2 separate regions of the Homo sapiens genome follow, and region 1 is linked to region 2. A link means that fine-mapping ties the variant in region 2 to the plasma level of a protein whose gene starts in the linked region. Region 2 holds a variant in brackets. A gene starts in the other region. All regions are shown on their reverse strands.

Region 1 (5,306 bases), not on the chromosome of region 2:
AAATTGAGGCCCAAAGGTAAGATAAAATCCCATGGTCACATGGCACGATAGTGGCAGACCTGAGATTAGAACTCCAAATGTGAGAGTATTCTTTCCTTAACAGGTAAGGGATGAAATGTTTATAACCGGCAGGTACTCAAACTATTTGTATTAATCATTTGTTTTTAAAATGATGAACCCAATTTTCCTCCTTTTGAATTTCTCCCACTTAGTTTTCCATCTATTTTGAAGTTCTTCCAAATTCAGTTGTTATAAAGCAAACCAACTTTGATTAAGGATCCTTCTTACCCCAATGTCGAAATCAGGGTGTGTGACATCATTTGGCCACCAGAGGGCACTGAAGTCTCCTGTTCAGAGTAGATGATCTTGCTTCTTCTGATACACAATTCCTACTGTGTAGCCTGAGAAGTTGGCTGAATATTAGGAGGCTGGTTTTGAGAAGGGAAGTAGCGGTGGGACTTTGGCTCACACACCTGTTGCCCACGGCTGCTCACATGACTGGCCAACAGCAGCTGAGTGAAATTACCTCACCTCTGTTACACAACTCAGCCTCACAGGGCCAGGTGTCTGCCAGAGCCAGCTTTACAAGATGACAAACTCTTGCACTAACACCACCATACAGTCTTTATAACAACAATTACAGTGGAAATTTGAGGCCAGGCCAAAAAGATTAAGACTTGCTCCAAAAAGACGTGACCAAAGCTTAAAGTCATAAAGAATGGAGGCCAGGTGCTATGAGCTTATTGACCAGTTTCCAGAATAGCAGAATCAGGAGCACCCGTGAGAGAATGAGACAGGCCATCTTAGAAGAAGCAAAAGGAATGTCCCTTACATGGAGCAGGGAAGGGCAGCGGGGGCAATAAATTCATGAAACCGCCGACCCCAAGCTTAATGTCTTAACAGGTCCTGAACTGGTAAGTTCAAATTTGTACATGGGATATTGATAGTAGACTAACAATCCCTTTGTGCGTCTATATGAGGGACTCCTGGGCCAGTAGTTTAAAAGGTCTTGACGGGCAATAACAAATGTTGGTGAGGATGTGGGGAAAAGGAAACCCTTGTACACTGTTGGTGGGAATGTAAATTAGAATAACCGCTTTGGAAAAAAATTTGGAGTTCCTCAAAAAATTAAAAATAGAGGTACCATATGATCCAGCAATCCCACAGCTAGGTATATCCCTAAAAGAAAGAAAATCAGTATATTGAGAGATGTCTGCACTCCTGTGTTTACTGCAGCACTATTCACAACAGCTAAGATTTGGAAGCAACCTAAGTGTCCATCATCAGATGAATGGATAAAGAAAATGTGGTATATATACACAATGGAGTACTATTCAGCCATAAAAAATGAATGGGATCCTGTCTGTCTTTGCAACAACATAGTTGGAACTGGAGGTTATTACGTGAAGTGAAATAAGCCAGGCACAGAAAGACAAACTTCACACATCCTCACTTATTTGTGGGAGCCTAAATGGAAACAATTGAACTCATGGAGACAGAGAGTAGAGGGATGGTTACCAGAGGCCAGGAAGGGTAGTGGGGGGACTTGCAGGGGAGGAGTGGGGATGGTTAATGGGTACAAAAAATAGTTAGAATAAGACCTAGTATTTCATAGCACAACAGGGTGACTATAGCCAATAATAATTTAAGTGTACATTTAAAATAACTAAAAGTATAATTGGATTGTTTGTAACACAAAGGATAAATGCTTGAGGCAATGGATACCCCATTTACCCTGATATGACTATTATGCATTGTATGCCTGTAGCAAAATATCTCATGTACCCCATAAATGTATACACCTACTATGTACCCACAAAAATTAAAAATTTTAAAATAAGTAAATAAAAAGTTTTTTAAAGGTCTTGAACTTTCGGGCTTCTGCCTAACTTTACTACTAGTGTAAGTGGGCCCCTTGAGATTTCAGCACCCCAGCATTTGTTAGTGACTGAAATAATGAAAATTCTGATCAGGCCCTTGCTTGCACATGTTGACAACTCTCTTTTTGCCCAATATCCCTTGTTCCTACAACATAATCATAAACTGCTGATGTACTGTTTCTTTATCAAGCAGGAGGAGATAATAACTTCAGGGTTACGAAAAAGTTTGCAGGAGGAATAAGTCCTTTGAAGTACTTTGAGGCCAGCTTCTGTCGCCCAGAAGTCTGATTGTTCAAGGAATTATCTGAGACTGAAGAAACACAGACTTTTTCCCTCGATTCCCTGAAACTCCCCCTCCCTGACTCGCTGGCCGCATAAACACTCTCTGCTTCTTCTTTTTGTTAGGGCGGATTTGAGAGATCTTGCCCTCCCGCCTTCTCGCTTTGGCCAAATCGAATAAACTTTTATCTCCAAGCACCTATATGTCAGTGTTTGGCATCAGCTACACATGGGGTACACGAGCCTGAGTCTGGGCTTCTACAACGCTGGGACCCTCGCTGTTCTTTGGAGCTGATGGTAAATTCAACAGAAAAGAGGCGCATGGGTAGAAAATGCAGCATTTCCTCTCAGATGCCAGATATTCATCTCCAAAGGTATTAAAAGGAGGGGGTGTGTGCCTGTGTAAAGAGGCTGGTCTTTTCCTAGCAGTACGATTTGGGCAAGTTGCTTGATTTCTTCAAGCCTTTCTTTTTCCGCCTGTCAAACAAAACAAAACAAATATCCCGTTTAGGACAAATTCACAATCCTTAAAGAGGGCAGGCAGAGCGATTGGAATGCAGATGAACCAATCCCTTCTCCTGCAGGTTGCGGAGCTGCAGAGGGACCCCGCCCCCTGCATTGTGCTTAGCTCTGATTGGCGCCTCGCGGAGGGGGCGGGGCCTGGGCGCGCCGAGCTCCGGCTGGGTCCCTGCAGGTCTTGGGGCCCGGGACTCTTCCTGGAGACACCGCCATGGCCGGGCTATCCCGCGGGTCCGCGCGCGCACTGCTCGCCGCCCTGCTGGCGTCGACGCTGTTGGCGCTGCTCGTGTCGCCCGCGCGGGGTCGCGGCGGCCGGGACCACGGGGACTGGGACGAGGCCTCCCGGCTGCCGCCGCTACCACCCCGCGAGGACGCGGCGCGCGTGGCCCGCTTCGTGACGCACGTCTCCGACTGGGGCGCTCTGGCCACCATCTCCACGCTGGAGGCGGTGCGCGGCCGGCCCTTCGCCGACGTCCTCTCGCTCAGCGACGGGCCCCCGGGCGCGGGCAGCGGCGTGCCCTATTTCTACCTGAGCCCGCTGCAGCTCTCCGTGAGCAACCTGCAGGTGAGCTGGGGCCCGCGGCTTCCCCAGGCGGGCTGTGGGCGGGGCGGCCACAGAGCGAGCCTTCACTCTCCCCAGAATTCTTCCCGGGAAGTGGAGCGTGGCTCGAACGGCTGTTGCTTCTCTGCCGCGCAGGCAGGTAGGTGGGCGTTGCAGCGTCCCAGATGTTGGGCAGCTGGGTACCAGGAATTTCCCACAAGCCTCCGCCACTGGGCCACGCACCTGGGGTAAATTCTCTGCCAGCAGCCCGAGGACTTCTCATCCGTGAGTGGTTCTCAGTCGTCTTGGGGCCCAGTGTCTCTATTAACTGTGCTCCTATTCTCTTTTTTTTTTTTTTTCCCTTTGAGACAGAATCTCACTTTGTGGCCCAGGCTGGAGTGCAGTGGCGCTATCTCAGCTTACTGCAACCTCTGCCTCCCAGGTTCAAGCGATTCTCGTGCCTCAGCCTACCGAGTAGCTGGGATTACAGGTGCGTGCCACCACACCCGGCTAATTTTTGTATTTTTAGTAGAGGCGGGGTTTCACCATGTTGGCCAGGCTGGTCTCAAACTCCTGACCTCACGTGATCCACCCATCTCAGCCTCCCAAAGTGCTGGGATTACAGGCGTGAACCACCGCGCCCTGCCTGGGCTCCTATTCTTAAAGGTTTTACAGGGCATAGAGATTGTTAGGTACTTAAGCACTTTAATATGTGACTTCAGGGTTTCTCACTCTCTTACCCTTCCTGAATTAAGCTTTTCCCTCCTGCAGCAAGACGCTAACGTACAATATCATGGACGATTACAATGATTACTGCAGTCTTTAGGCCTCCACAGGCATAGTGGCTCCTCAGTAAGATGCAGAGCTGATTGAAGGTGTATCTCTTCCTCGCCCTTTGCCCACCTTCTGGTGCAGGGCCACACTTACAACTCTGATGGATCTCTGCTGTCTCAGGGATGGGGTCACAGACACCCAGCTTGGGAGGCCGGAGACACACAGAGTCCAGGAATGGAGCCTGATTTGATGGAGGGTCTTTTTGACAAAGCTCTCACATTTGAGTTCAACTCTGAAAGTACAACATTGTTGATAAAGACAGGATGCAAGAAACTGATGCTTGATTAATCACTTTTCCATTTGCCTTCCATTCGTTGTCTCTTCTATTAATTCTTTGAAGTAGGTATTATATACCCCATTCTGCAGATGAAGAACTTGAGGCCTACCTAGGTTAAGTAACTTGTTTAAAGCCAGCGGGCAAACCCCTAGTTTCATCTCAGGTTCATCTTTCTTCAAACCACCTATCACAGGCTGGTGGCCCATCAGCTGAATATGTCCCACAGACCGGTTTGGCCTACACAAAGTTCTGTTTTGTTTTTAATAAATTTGAATTTGTTACCAACATTTTAAAATTTAGATTTTACTTTAAAATGTAAATCTCTAACTTTTCTTGAAAAATGGGAAGATCCAGTGACACTGTGGGCCTGCACTCTTTGAGCAAAAACAGAAGCAGTGCCCTCTTTTAGCTAAGGCAGATACACCCCAGTTCACCATTTTCTTATTCCCAGCCCATTCCACACCTTTAGGCGTTTGCTCAAAACAAACTCACTCCACTCCATCAGTGGTGCTCAACTTTGACTGCAAATCATAGTCACCTAAGAAGGCTTTAAAAATGGGATGCCAAGGTATTTTATTGAAAGCACATTTTATTTTAAGACAACACCCCTTCCCGCCTCCCCACAAACCACTCCCTGATGATTCTAATGGGGGAGGAGGGAGATTGACCAATACATAATCATATTTAAATTTGTGAGGTGACTAGGGAGTTGCTGGTATTATTGTCCCCATTTAGGAAGTGAGGAAACACAGACTCAGAGGTGCAGGGACTTACCCTGTGACCAGTCAGCTAATGGCTGTCAGGTAGGACATTAGCCCAGGTCTTTCATGTTTCTAGAAATAGACAGGGCAGTGGCAAGGAACCTACCCAGGGCTTTAGGTTTCCATGATGGCAGTGAAAAGAAGTGGCCACATTAGAATTTGTCTGACTTGATTCCATCAATTAGCAGGTCAAAGTTTCTGCTTTTTTCTTTTCC
Region 2 (5,380 bases):
TTCAAATCCCTGTGCCCTGGCAGAGTGCCTGCCTCATTCATTCAGTGACTACTTAATTTTTGAGCACTGTACCAGGCCCCTGGGGATCCAGCAGTGAACAAAGCAGACTTGGCTCCTGCTGACAAGGAGCTTATATTCTGGTGGTGCAGTCAGACATTAACTGCCACTTCATTACTATTGTGAGAAATGCTGTAAAGAAATAGAGCATCGTTGTGGAAGAGACCAGCAGTGAGAATCAGTTTGGTCTGGTGGCAGGGGATCAGGAGATGCTTGCTTTTTTTTTTTTTTTTTTTTTTGAGACGGAGTCTCACTCTGCCGCCCAGTCTGGAGTGCAGTGGCCACTATCTTGGCTCACTGCAACCTCCACCTCCTGGGTTCAAGTGATTCTCCTGCCTCGGCCTCCTGAGTAGCTGGGATTACAGGCTTGCACTGCCACGCCCAGCAACTTTTTAAATTTTTAATAGAGATGGGGTTTCACTGGTTGGCCAGGCTGGTCTTGAACTCCTGACCTCAGGTGATCCACCCACCTCGGCCTCCCAAAGTGCTGGGATTACAGGTGTGAGCCACTGTGCCCAGCTGGGAGATGCTTTCTTGCTTGATGCTGTTTGAGTTCAACCGTAGAGGGTAAGAATTGCTGAGGCTGAGGACAGAGGAGGTCAAGTCAGCTCTAGGACAGTGGTTCTTAGCTAGGTGTGATTTTGCCAAATGTCTAGAAACATTTTTGGTTGATACAGCTGGGGCATGGCATGGGGTTGATGCTACTGGCATTTAGTGGGTAGAAGCCAGGGATCCTGCCAAACATCCTATAGTGCACAGGACAGCCCCTACAACAAAGAATCATCCAGCCCAAAATGTCGATAGTGCTGAAGTTGAGAAATCCGGAATTAGAAGGGGCAAGAATGGCTGCAGGGCAGTTAGTCTACAGGACTGGCCTGGGACTAGGTCAGTGGAAGGACATAGGAAGAGAAATGGACAGATTCAAGAGGCTTAAGAGGCAAAATCCTCCAGTCCTTATGTTCCATTATGTGCTAGGCACTCCACCAACATCTTGGGATACAAAAGTAAGCGAGATAGACAAGTTCATTTGCTCTCGCAGACCCTACTTGTAGTTCTTAAGTGAATATTTGTTGAATGAATACTTATAAGCATCAAAATTTATTTTTGTTGCTGATTGTGACTGAACTTAGGAAGAGTAGTTTAAGTGAGGTGCCTAATGTATGTAAGACATCTTGCGTAGAGGCTGGTCCTAGGCGTTCAGCTAATTAAGTGCCAACTGTCCCATCTCAGGATTGTTTTCCATGTGGCCAGAGTGCTCATGAAGAAAGGACAGGAGACCACCCTGTGAGCTTATGCCTCTTAATCTTTCCTTAAATACAGAACAGGAGAACTCACAGTGATTTCTTGACCTTGGTGTGCTGTGTTATGATTGCTATGAAATCAGAGGGAGCAAGTCCTTTATTTAATATAGCTTGTACTGTATACTAATATATGTAGGCTTCCTATAGTTCCTTCTAAAATATAACAGGTGTAACTATAATAGATTATATATATTCATGATATATCTTTTTAAAATTTCTGCTGTTCTTTAGATTGTTCTCATCTTGCGATACAGATGCAGAATCTTCAGCAGTTGATTAGTCAGCCTATGTGTGATTCGTATGCATACTAAATTACACAGGAAAAAGTGATCTTTCAGAAAGACCAGGTCAGGTCACACTCATTCAGGGAGTGAAACTCATTCTATGATCAGACTAAAAACCATATTGCCCACTTTAAGATTACTTCTCAAAATTGCTTCATTTTTTTAGGATTCTAGTTTTTCTTTTTCCTTTGATAAACCTTTTTCCCCCCCTTCATTTTCTCACTTCATTTCTGTCTCTCATTAATTCCCAATTAGATAAAGCTTCTAAAGCAAATTTTCAGAAGTTGTTCATGTGACAGGCTTATGGAGGTGTTCACTTTGGGCCAGTGTATTAGTCCATTTTCATACTGCTGTGAAGACATACGCGAGACTGGGTAGTTTATAAAGAAAAAGAGGTTTAGGCCAGACATGGTGGCTCATGCCTGTAATCCCAGCACTTTGGGAGGCCGGGGCAGGTGGATCACCTCAGGTCAGGAGTTCAAGACGAGCCTGGCGAACATGGTGAAACCCTGTCTCTACCAAAAATACAAAAATTTGCCAAGTGTGGTGGCGGGCACCTGTAATCCCAGATACTTGGGAGGCTGAGGCAGGAGAATTGCTTGAACCTGGGAGGTGGAGGTTGCAGTAAGCCAAGATCGTGTCATTGCACTCCAGCCTGGGCGACAAGAGCGAGACTCTGTCTCAAAAAAAAAAAAGGAAAAAGAGTTTTAATGTACTTGCAGTTCCACATGGCTGGGGATGCCTTACAATCATGGTGAAAGGGGAAAGAGGAGCAAAGGCACATCTTACATGGCAGCAGGCAAGAGAGCATGTGCAGAGGAACTGCCCTTTATAAAACCATCAGATCTTGTGAGACTTACTCACTATCACAGGAACAGCATGGGAAAAGCCTACTCCCATGATTCGGTTACCTCCCATCAGGTCCCTCCCATGACACATGGGGATTATGGGAGCTACAATTCAAAATGAGATTTGGGTGGGGACACAGGCAAACTATATTAGCCAGGTTGTCTACTGTTGACTAAAGACACAAAGGGCTGGGCACGGTGGCTCAGGCCTATAATCCCAACACTTTGGGAGTCTGAGGTGGGTGGATCACCTGAAGTCAGGAGTTTGAGACCAGCCTGGCAACATGGTGAAACCTCATCTCTACTAAAAATACAAAAATTAGTCGGGTGTGGTGTCAGGTGCCCGTAATCCCAGCTACTTGGGAGGCTGAGGCAGGAGAATCACTTGAATCTGGGAGATGGAGGTTGTGGTGAGCCGAGATCGTGCTACTGGACTCCAGCCTGGGCAACAGAGTAAGACTCTGTCTCCAAAAAAAAAAAAAAAAA[AG/G]ACACAAATATATTTAAGTTGCTTTCTGCTCTGGAGGAACTCATAGTCCAGGCAGGGAGGTGGACAGGCAAGTAGGCAAACTTGAAATGTGTTGTGATGAATGCAGTGCCAAGCACACTTTCTCAGATGGTGTGATACCTGAGCTTGGTCTGGAAGGAGATGGCTGAGTAAAGGAAGGGGAGTGTTTTTGTTTGTTTTGTTTCTTAAGGAAAAGATGCCATTGGTGTAAAGGTATGGATATGAGACATTATTAACTTCTAAGAACAAAAGTAGTTCTAAAGGGCTGCAGCATCTTTGGAGTGACAGGGGAATGAAGCCGAAGAGGCAGGCAGGGGCCAGTTTAGGACTTGCCTGCTGGGTGGTACTAAGGAATGTGAATTCATCCTGAAGAAAATGGGGACCATCAAAGGATTTTAAGGAAGAGAGTGATGAAATAAAATCTGTGCTTAGAACAGTTGCTCTGGAGGTAATGTGGAAGATGAATTGCAGGTGGGGGAAAACGGGCAACAGGAGACGGGGTGAAAATCCCACATCAAGTATAATGCTTCAGAATCCACAAGCTTTTTTGATATTTTTATTTTTTGAGACAGGATCTCGCTATGTTCCCCAGACTGGTCTTGAACTCCTGGGCTCAAGTGATCCTCCCACCTCAGCCTCCCCATAGCTGGGATTGTAGGCATGTGTCACCTTGGCTAGCTATTTAAAAAATTAATTACTTTAATTTTTAATTATTATGGCTATATAATAGTTATGCACATTTATGGAGTACATGTGATATTTTTATACATGCATACAATCTGTAATGATCAGGCTGGGTGCAATGGCTCACACCTGAATCCCAGCACTTTGAGAGGCTTAGGTGGGTGGGTTGCTTGAACTCAGGTGTTCAAGACCAGCCTGGGCAACATGACAAAACCCCATCTCTACAAAAAAATACAAAACTTAGCTAGGTGTGGTAGCACGTGCCTGTAGTCCCAGCTACTCTGGAGGCTGAGGTAGGAGGATCACTGGAGCCCAGGAGATTGAGGCTACATTGAGCCATGATTGTGCCACTGCTCCACCCTGGGTGACAGAGTGAGACCCTGTCTCAAAAAAAAAAAAAAAAAAAAAAGTGGAATGATAAAATCTGGGTAATGGGGATATCCATCATCTCAACCATGTATCATTTCTTTGTGTTGGGAACATTCTAGATCTTCACTTTTAGCTATTTTGAAATATACAATAAATTATTGTTAATTACAGTTGCCCTCTTGTGCTGTCGAACACCAGGACTATCTAACTATTTTTGTACCTATTAGCCAATCACTCTTCATCCCCACTGCCCCCACTACCCTTTCCATCCTCTGGCAACCACCATTCTATTCTCTACCTCCATGAGATCAGTTTTTTAGCTCCCACATATGAGTGAGAAATGTGAATGCAATTTGTTTTTCTGTGCCTGGCTTATTTTACTTCACATCATGTCCTCTGGTTCCATCCATGCGCTGCAAATTACAGGATTTTATTCTTATTTATGGCTGAATAATATCCCATTGTGTGTATAAACCATTTTCTTTATCCATTCATCCATTGATGGACACTTAGCTTGCCTCCAAATCTTGGCCATTGTGAATAGTGCTGAAATAAACATGGGAGTGTAGATAGCTCTTCATTATACGGATTTCCTTTCTTTTGGGTTTATACCCAGTAGTGGGATTGCTAGATCATATAGTCGTTCTATTTTTAGTTTTTTGAGGAATCTTCAAAGTGTTTTCCATAGTGGCTATACTAATTTACATTCCCACTAACAGAGTACAAGCATTGCCTTTTTGCCAAGTCCTTGCTAGCATTTCTTATTTTCTGTCTTTTTGATAATAGCCACTTTGACTAAGGTGAGATGTCTCACTGTGGTTTTAATTACATTTCCCTGATAACTTGTAATGTTGAGCATTTTTAAATATACCTATGGCCACTTACATGTGTCTTCTTTTGAGAAATGTCTATTCTGATATTTTGCCAATATTAAAATCAGATTATTTGGGTTTTTTTATGCCATTGAGTTGTTTGAGTTCCTTATATATTCTGATTATTAAACCCTTGTCAAATGAATAGTTTACAAATAATTTTTCTCATTCTGTAGGTAGTCTCTTCATTTTGTTGATTGTTTCCTTTGCTGTGCAGAAGCTTTTTAGATTGATGTAATCCCATTTGTCCATTTATCTTTGGCTGTGTATTCTCTTTAGGTCTTACTCCGTAAGTCTCTGCCCAGATGATTTTCCTGAATTTCCCCAGTTATTTTCTTCTAGTAGTTTCAAGTTTCAGGTCTTAGATTTAAGTCTTTAATCCATTTTGATTGAGTTTTGTATGTGGTGAGAGGTAGGGGTCCAGTTTCATTCTTCTGCATATGGAAATCCTTTTTCCCAG

Direction of the effects. Alleles are on the strand shown, and positions count from the first base shown. The strength of an association depends on the size of the effect and on how common the allele is.
For the plasma level of the protein whose gene starts at base 2,869 in region 1, AG is the high allele of the variant in region 2 and G is the other (strong association).

What was found. PIP is the posterior inclusion probability: the model's chance that the variant is causal. The UK Biobank Pharma Proteomics Project read protein levels with antibody pairs (Olink). The fine-mapping took linkage between variants from a reference panel, not from the people measured, so its PIPs are less certain.
Region 1: CREG1 starts here. The variant in region 2 is fine-mapped to the plasma level of the CREG1 protein (UK Biobank, PIP above 0.99).

The regions. Positions count from the first base shown.
Region 1 is chr1:167,551,325-167,556,630 of GRCh38, reverse strand. CREG1 (cellular repressor of E1A stimulated genes 1) reads left to right here and starts at 2,869. Exons shown (of 4, transcript NM_003851.3): 1 at 2,869-3,243. The coding sequence starts at 2,890. RefSeq lists a silencer at 2,731-3,180.
Region 2 is chr12:101,815,974-101,821,353 of GRCh38, reverse strand. The region is part of intron 1 of GNPTAB (N-acetylglucosamine-1-phosphate transferase subunits alpha and beta); the gene reads left to right. Among named protein-coding and RNA genes, the nearest start is that of GNPTAB, 12 kb to the left of the region's middle. The variant AG/G (reference allele first, on the strand shown) is at 2,977.